2 separate regions of the Homo sapiens genome follow, and region 1 is linked to region 2. Evidence: fine-mapped expression QTL. A gene starts in region 2. The other region holds a variant in brackets. All regions are shown on one strand. Distances are between the middles of the regions.

What was found. PIP is the estimated chance that this variant, and not a neighbour inherited with it, causes the effect.
Region 1: its variant is the best candidate, but not a certain one, in a credible set for the expression of NUDT16 in whole blood (INTERVAL, PIP 0.60).

The regions. Positions count from the first base shown.
Region 1 is chr3:131,245,964-131,250,354 of GRCh38, forward strand. All of the region lies in intron 16 of NEK11 (NIMA related kinase 11), which reads left to right. Among named protein-coding and RNA genes, the nearest start is that of NUDT16-DT, 130 kb to the right of the region's middle. The variant G/GT (reference allele first, on the strand shown) is at 1,876.
Region 2 is chr3:131,379,734-131,384,050 of GRCh38, forward strand. NUDT16 (nudix hydrolase 16) reads left to right here and starts at 2,041. Exons shown (of 3, transcript NM_152395.3): 1 at 2,041-2,209; 2 at 2,313-2,582; 3 at 3,429-4,317. The coding sequence starts at 2,072. The coding sequence ends at 3,608. It overlaps NUDT16-DT (NUDT16 divergent transcript), which reads right to left and starts at 1,742. Exons shown (of 4, transcript NR_038976.1): 1 at 1,600-1,742. RefSeq lists enhancers at 1,350-1,619, 1,911-2,480, 2,481-3,049 and a silencer at 1,730-2,029.

The sequences.
Region 1 (4,391 bases), 130 kb before region 2:
TACACAGAAACATTTTAGTTTAATTAAGTCCCATTTGTCTATTTTTGGTTTTGTTGCTTATGCTCTTGTAGTCTTAGTCATGAATTCTTTGCATAGACCAATGTCCAGAAGAGTTTTCCCTAGGTTTTCTTTAAACAAAAAAATTTTTTTTATTCCAATAGGTTTTTGGGGAACAGTTGGTGTTTGGCCACATGAATAAGTTCTTTAATGGCAATTTATGAGATTTTGGTGCACCCATCACCCTAGCAGTGAACACTGTACCCAGCGTGTAGCCTTTTATCCCTCACCTCCCTCACCCTTTCCCCACAAGTCCCTAAAGTCCAAATGTATCATTCTTATGCCTTTGTGTCCTCATAGCTTAGCTCTCACATGAGTGAGAATATAGGATGTTTGGTTTTCCATTCCTGAACTACTTCACTTACAATAACAGTCTCCATTTCCATCCAGGTTGCTGCAAATGCCATTATTTCATTCCTTTTTATGGCTGAATAGTATTCCGTGGTGTGTGTACCACATGTGTATGTGTATCACATTTTCTTTATCCACTCATTGATCGATGGACATTTGGGCTGGTTCCATATTTTTGCAATTGCAAATTGTGCTGCTATAAACATGCATGTGCATCTTTTTCATATAATTACTTCTTTTCCTCTAGGTAGATACCTAGTAATGGGATTGCTGGCTCAAATGGAAGATCTACTTTTAGTCCTTTAAATAATTTTCATACTGTTTTCCATAGTGGTTGTACTAATTTACATTCCCATCAACAGAGTAAAAGTGTTCCCTTTTCACTGCATCCATGTCAATATCTATTATTTTCTGATTTTTAAAATTATGGCCATTTTTGCAGGAGTGAGGTGGTATCACATTATGGTTTTTATTTGCATTTCCCTGATACTTAGTGATGTTGAGCATTTTTTCATATGCTTGTTGGCCATTTGTATATCTTCTTTTGAGAATTGTCTACTTATGTCCTTAGCCCACTTTTTGATGGGATTTTTTTTTGTTTTCTTCTTGCTGACTTGTTTGAGTTCTTTGTAGATTCTGAATATTAGTGCTTTGTTGGATGTATAGATTGTAAAGGTTTTCTTCCACTCTGTGGGTTGTCTGTTAATTCTGCTGTTTATTTCTTTTGCTGTGCAGAAGCTTTTTAGTTTAATTAAGTCCCATCTATTTATCTTTGTTTTTGATGCATTTGCTTTCAGGTTCTTGGTAATGAAGTATTTGGCTAAGCCAGTGTCTACACGGGTTTTTTCTGATGTTATCTTCTAGAATCTTTATGGTTTCGGTCTTACATTTAAGTCTTTGATCCATCTTCAGTTGATTTTTGTATAAGGTGAGAGATGAGGATCCAGTTTCATTCTTCTACATGTGACTTGCCAATTATCCCAGCACGATTTGTTGAATAGGGTGTCCATTTCCTACTTTATGTTTTTGTTTGCTTTGTTGAATATCAGTTAGCTATAAGTATATGGCTTTATTTCTGGATTCTCTATTCTGACCCATTGGTTTTTGTGCCTGTTTTTATACCAGTACCATGTTGTTTTGATGACTATGGCCTTATAATATAGTATAGTTTGAAGTCAGGTAATGTGATGCCTCCAGATTTATTCTTTTTTCTTAGTCTTGCTTTGGGTATGCAGGCTCTTTTTTGGTTTCATATGAATTTTAGAGTTTCTTTTTATAGTTCTGTGAAGAATGATGGTGGTATTTGATGGGAATTGCATTGAAGTCATTTTCACAATGTTGATTCTCTCCATCCATGAGCGTGGGATGTGTTTCCATTTGTTTGCATCATCTATGATTTCTTTCATTAGTGTTTTGTAGTTTTCCTTGTAGAAATTTTTCACTTATTTGGTTAAATGTATTCCTAGG[G/GT]TTTTTTTTTTTTTGTAGCTATTGTAAATGGAATTGCCTTCTTGATTTGGTTCTTAATGTGATTGTTATTGGTGTACAGAAATGCCATAGATTTTGGTATGTTTATTTTGTATCCTGAAATTTTACTTAATTTGTTCATCTAATCTAACAGTTTTTGGAGAAGTCTAGTGTTTTCTAGGTATAAGATCATATGATCAGCAAACTGAGATAATTTGACTTTCTTTTTTCCAATTTGGGTGCTATTTATTTTTCTCTTGCTTGGTTGCTCTGGGTAGGACTCCTAGTACTGTGTGGAACAGGAGTAATGAAAGTGGGCATTCTTGACTTGTACCAGGTTTAGGAGAATTGCTTTCAACTTTTCCCCATTCAGTATGATGTTGGCTGTAGATGTGTCATATATGGCCTTTATTATTTTGAGGTAGGTTTCTTTTATGCCTCATTTATAGAAGGTTTTATCATGATAGAATGCTGACTTTTTTCAAATGCTTTTTCTGCATCTATATAGATGATCATATGGTTCTTAAAAAATTTATGTGGGTACATAGTAGGTGTTTGTGTTTATGGAGTACATGAGATTTTTTAAATAGGCATACAATACATAATAATCATATCATGGAAGCTGAGGTTTGGGTCTGGAAAAATGCTTGGGGCACTTCCTGGAGCCTTTCTTTCTTACAGCCTGCCAGCCTTTCTCCAAGTTAGCACCAGGGCTGGTGAGGGACAAGGTGCTCTTCCATGGCCTGGATTGCATGGTCCCCCCGTGGAAAGCTGGATCACAGAGAAACAGTCTCTCTCACTCTCCCATATTAGGGCTTTACTCACAGTTCTCAGTCAGTTGTTGGCATGCAGGCTGTCTACCCATCCTCTCTTCACTGGGATCTTTCCTTTTCCAGTGAATTCCTCTGTTCTTTCTTGAATAAAAGATTATAGTGTGAATCTCTGTGCACTATTTTGCTTTTTCCATGTGAAATATTTAAAAATATTTTTAGGAGAAATTAGATGCAGACCCTGTTCTTTTACCAGTTTCAACCAAAATTATCTTCACTCTTATCTGTTTTATAAATTGAATTTCTATAAAAGATTGTGTCTGGAAAAAGATAGATTCCACTGCTAAAAATTGAAATAGCACTGATTGAATAGTTAATATCCAAATTCCTTTCTAGGCTGGGTGTTTTTTTTTTCCTTAAAGAAATGAGCATTAGAATCATGGAGTAAAAATACACATTTATCTCTGCTTGAAGTCCCACTAACATGACAAAAAAGGAAAAAAGCTAATATAAACCTACAGAAAAAAAAGAGAACATAAGAGGAGATGGAAGCAGATGAGAGCTTTAGTGAACTTGAGAAAGATATAAAGCAGATAGATGAGTGATAACTGATTTAGAAAACAGAGAAAGCTGAAAGCTAAGTGCCTAAGATGTATATAGGAAAGAAGGGAAGGTAAGGTGTAGGCTAGGAGAAGCAAGGCAACTGAACCTACAGAATCTCATAAATGCTCAAGATTTGGAGGCCTCAACTACCGCTGAAGGCATGGTATAGGTGAAGATTAAAATGGGAAGATTGGTTGACAGTGTGCGTAAGGAGAAATAGACCCCAGGTGCCTTTCTCTCCACTGGCACAGCCACAATATTCCTCTCCACAGTCAAGACAGAAGAAAACAGACTCGATTTGGGGGAACATTGAATCAGGAAGGTTTTAGGGACACCAAAGGACAGGGTGATGTGATGTGATGAAAACAAAGAGATGAGTTGAAAGTCTTCATATTAAGTTATGAAACCCCCAGATACCATTCCTACTTGGCTTCTGAAACACTGGAAGAACAGCATGGACTCCTTCAGGTTCAGAAAAGCATGGACTCTTTAGAAGATATCTCTCTGACAGCATTTACCAGCCTGAGAATCCTAAGGATGTTAACATTTCCTCAACAAAATGGTGGGAATGAGCGCTACCAGTTGACAATCTCTGAATCTGCAGAAAGAGCTTAAACTGACTTTTAATTTTTCACACTTAAATGTGAACATGTAGCAATGCAGTAGCCAGTATCTGAGGAAATCTAACCAAAAAGAGAAATCAAGACAAAAATATACAAAGAACTCAGGAAACAGACAATGTAGACAAGAAAATAAAAATTCAAAAACTGTGTATCCACAAAAGTTTTTTAAAATAAAAAATTAAAGAAACAATATTAAAATTCTAAAAGATAGCAGAGAAAGTATTACCTCTGTGAAGCAAATCATACAGAGAATAAGAAAGAGCTCTTAAAGTTATAATTTTAATGGCAGAAATAAAAATTCAGTAGAAGGTTTGGAAGATAAAAGTGAGGAAATTTACCAGAATATAATTAATAAATGGTAAGAAAACAAAGTGATTCATCTACGTGATTCAGCACCTAACAAATAGAAATTCCAGGAAAAAAGAACAGAAAATGAAAAAAATTATCAAATAAATAAGAAAAATATCTAGAGAGAATCAAACAGACCACTTATAAAGTATCAGAGAAAAGAGTGGTGTCTTAT
Region 2 (4,317 bases):
GGAATGCTAGTGGAAGGGGGAAGGCCCCGGTTCTCCACCCTGGTTATTAGTTACCTAAAACATATTTTAAAAACCGCATATGTCCCTGTAGGACCCCATACATTCTGATTCAACTGGTCTGTGGTAGGAAAAAGTGGCAGCTTTTAAAAATTTTTAGAAGCTTTTTGCGAGGTGACTCTAATGTTAAAGCAGGGCTATTTCCAAACCCCCTGGAACTCTAGCAGGCCAGTGACAATTGTATCACACCTACAGACTCATCACTTTAATGCAGTTGCTTCATGTTATTAGATAATATCCCTGCCCCACAACGCAGAAGACTAAGCTAGGAAAGATGATGTCATACAGCTCATCCCTCCTTCAAACACTGGAGCGTGATGAGTGCAGCTCAGTTCCAACACTTGGGTCTTTATTTATTATTATTATTTTTTGTAGAGACGGGGTCTCGCTATGTTGCCCAGACTGGTCTCAAATTCATGACCTTGAATGATCCTCTCACCTCGCCTCTCACAGTGCTGGGATTATAGGTATGTGCCCAGCCCTGGCTCCTCAACGTAAGACATAGCACTGTGCCCCAACCCTCAACTCCAAGAATGGCTACATTTACTTTCTGCCTGGCACTGTTCTAAGTGCCTAACATATCTCAACATCCCTAATAGGTTGGTATCATCTCCACTTAACAGATGAGCTGCTGGGATCTGAGAGAGTTAAGTGACTTGTTAAGGTCACAAACCTGTTTCTGGGTGGGTCCGGACTCTTTCCCACCATATGCCGTCACTTACAGGCTGTGAGTTTATGCCCAGCCCCCCTCAAGGAGCTGCCTCCTGCTTTCTATTGCATAATCAATATCGACACCTGGTGTAGGGGCGCTCTGCAGGGTGGGGAAGGCCTGGCCTGGAGTGAGGGATCCTGCATCTCAGCATCAGGCCCTGAGTAGGCCTCTGCCCTTGTGGTAGGGTAACCCACCCTCCTTCATAGCTCAGAGGTCTGAGGGGGTTTGAGGGAAAGACTAGAAAGCCTAGGAGGCTTCTTCTATCTCTCACCCCTCCTCACTCCCAGTCCTGTGCCACAGGATTTCACTCACAGCTCCTTCCACCCCCACCCTTCCCCTGAAAATCTCACTGCCCTGTGACTTCTCTATGTGCCACTCCCTGTGCGTCAGACCCCCACGATCAGCTGCCCACTGCCTATGGCCACCCCAATTCCTTAGAACTACACTTATCACTGCTCACCCTTCTCCTACTCTCCCCCTCTCAGAAAATGACACCACATCCAGGAAACTCGGAACCACCACTAGCCCAGCGCTCCCTCTTCCCCATTCACTCAGTCACCAAGTCCCCTCAATTTCACCACTCAAGATAGTTGTCAGACCATGGCGCCTGTCCATCTCCATTTCCCTAGGATAGGCCTTGGTGTCTGAGGCCAACCCTGCCTCATTTCCTCCTAACCCCCACCCAGGCCTTGTGCTTTGTGTACCACCACACCCAACCAAAGGTAGTTATTACTTCTTTGGCTCCCAGCACTCAACTGAGCGCCCCAGCTCTTCCTCACCTGCCGGGACACTCCAGCTGACTCCAGATTGCGACGCAGGCGTTTACGTACCAGCCTTTCTCCAGGTTCAGGGCGCTGCCACATCTTCAGCCCCGACCCGCCGCAAGTCTCATTTCCTCCTAACCCCAACCCAGGCCTTGTGCTTTGTGTACCACCGAACCCAACCAAAGCTAGTTCCCTGACTTGCTCTTTTGGCTCCCAGGAGCCTTTAGGTACCGGCCTTGCGCCAGGTTTAGGGCGCGGCCACACCTCTAGCCCCGCCCCACCGCAGGCCCAACCCAGAGGCTGCTTTCGGTTACCCTAGGGTTCCTGGGCCCTGGACTTCAACCCGGTCTGCAAGCCCCGCCCTGATTAGCTGCCTCCCGCACCGGTCGCGGCGCCCCGCCCCCAGGCGCCTAGGTTCCTCCCCTTATCCCTGCAGGGATTGGGCCTTGCAGCACCGCCCAGGCTCGGATTGGTCCGAGGTGAGACCCGCCCCTCTGCCCATTGGGCCTTCGGGACAGCAGAGGAGCAGTGTCCGGCCATGGCCGGAGCCCGCAGGCTGGAGCTAGGCGAGGCCCTGGCGCTGGGGTCGGGCTGGCGTCATGCGTGCCACGCTCTCCTCTACGCGCCGGACCCTGGGATGCTCTTCGGCCGCATCCCGCTGCGCTACGCCATACTGGTGAGAAGGGGGCGCGCCCGGCCACTTTCTGCCTGAGCCCCGCACCCTCTCTGGTGGTCTCCTCTGGGGCGCCCCTGCCAATCCCCGCTTCCCCCTCCCGCAGATGCAGATGCGCTTCGATGGACGCCTGGGCTTCCCCGGCGGATTCGTGGACACGCAGGACAGAAGCCTAGAGGACGGGCTGAACCGCGAGCTGCGCGAGGAGCTGGGCGAAGCGGCTGCCGCTTTCCGCGTGGAGCGCACTGACTACCGCAGCTCCCACGTCGGGTCAGGGCCACGCGTTGTGGCCCACTTCTATGCCAAGCGTCTGACGCTCGAGGAGCTGTTGGCTGTGGAGGCCGGCGCAACACGCGCCAAGGACCACGGGCTGGAGGTGGGACCAGCCTGGGACTCTGTCCCTTTCCCAATTTCCTCTTCTCCCAAAGCTTTCTCTCCCCCAAGAAAGCATCCCTGGAGAAAAGTCTTTGCCCCTCTGACCTTGCCCTCTCCCCAGCTTTCTTGGTGGAGTTGGGATCGTGATCATCTATACTCTGAATTAGTACTGCCAACCTGGGCTTTCTGTAAAGGTCTTTCCCACCCTTTACCAGGAGAGATCCTTTCTAGAACACACTCATCCATGTCTCTCTGCTGTTCCCTATTGACAGTGTGATAGATTATCACATTATCTAGGTGTGGCAACCTAGGTTTTATTCTTGGGGTTTGCTTTTCTTGTGTAGGAGATGTGGCCCTGATATTTCAGGCAGGGCTAGTAGATAGATTATGTATGAAGGTGGTTCTCAAAATTTGGCAGGTAGCAGAATCATCGGGGCGTCTTATTAAAATAGCGATTTCTCTCAGCATTCCTGCATTGGTGGTGGGGCGGGGGGAGAGGAAACCTGAGAATTTGTAGTTTTCAAAAGTTCCCAAATAATGCTGATGCAAATAATCTGAGGACCACATTTTGACAACCACTGGTGAAAGGGTATGAATACATCTTTGAGGCAGTAGCCACTAGAGGTTTAGAAGCAGATGTGGGAAAGATTAATTGATAGAGCTAGATAATATGTTTTGGGTCATTTTCCTGCAGAAGGTTGGGCCACTAGGCTTTAGTGAGGTGTGAGCCTTGGGCCTGGTTCTGCTGGAGTATTAAGGGGTGAGGCCTGATCTGCTGGAGAAAGGATGGAGTTAAGGGAATGAGCCACCTGGGGCCCTAGTGTCTCCTGTCTCCTTCCTTTTACAGGTGCTGGGCCTGGTGCGAGTGCCCCTGTATACCCTGCGGGATGGTGTAGGAGGCCTGCCTACCTTCCTGGAGAATTCCTTTATTGGCTCTGCGCGGGAGCAGTTACTTGAAGCTCTCCAGGACTTGGGACTGCTGCAGTCTGGCTCTATTTCAGGCCTTAAGATTCCAGCTCATCACTAGAGGCAGCCCTCCATGGACCCATGAAAACTGAGATGAGGACCTTGGTACTAGGGAGGGAGGGAAGGACGTGGGAATGTTTTCTTATTGGATCTGAGAGATGATACATGATACCAGATGAAAAGAAGGAGAAGTGTGTACCATATGTTTTGAGCAGAGGACCCTCCAACTTATGGCATCAGGGGCAAAAAGTCACAGCTTATCCCAGGCACCCTGGCAGGTTCTCAGAGCCTGCCTCCTCCCTGTTTATATGCGTACAGCCTGGTAACCCCCAGGCATGCAAATATACAATCTGTAACAACACACAGCCTGACACCTTCCCCTGGTCATGTCCAGTTTAACCTTGAAGTGGCATTTGTCACACTACCCTGGTCCCTGATTGCAAGGAGCTTCTGAAGCAAGGGTGAATCCTTCCCACACTCCTCCATGGTTGCCCTCCAGGGTCTAGCCCAGCCTATTTGTTAGGGAGGATAGAGAAACAGAGCACCCCCTGTGCTTTCTGAAAATAGACTTGCTCTTGTCTTGAGTGGTGACCAAAGCAGTTGGCTCTTAAAAGGTGGGAGAGCAGCCCAACCAATCCCCAATCCTTTTCTTCTGAAACTGAGCAGGAAGGGTAAGGAAGTGGCTAGGTCTCCTTGGACTGAGCATGGACATGAGTCCTGTGAGGACTGGTGTCTCTCCTCTAGAGCTTTCATCTTTGGGATGCCTGAGA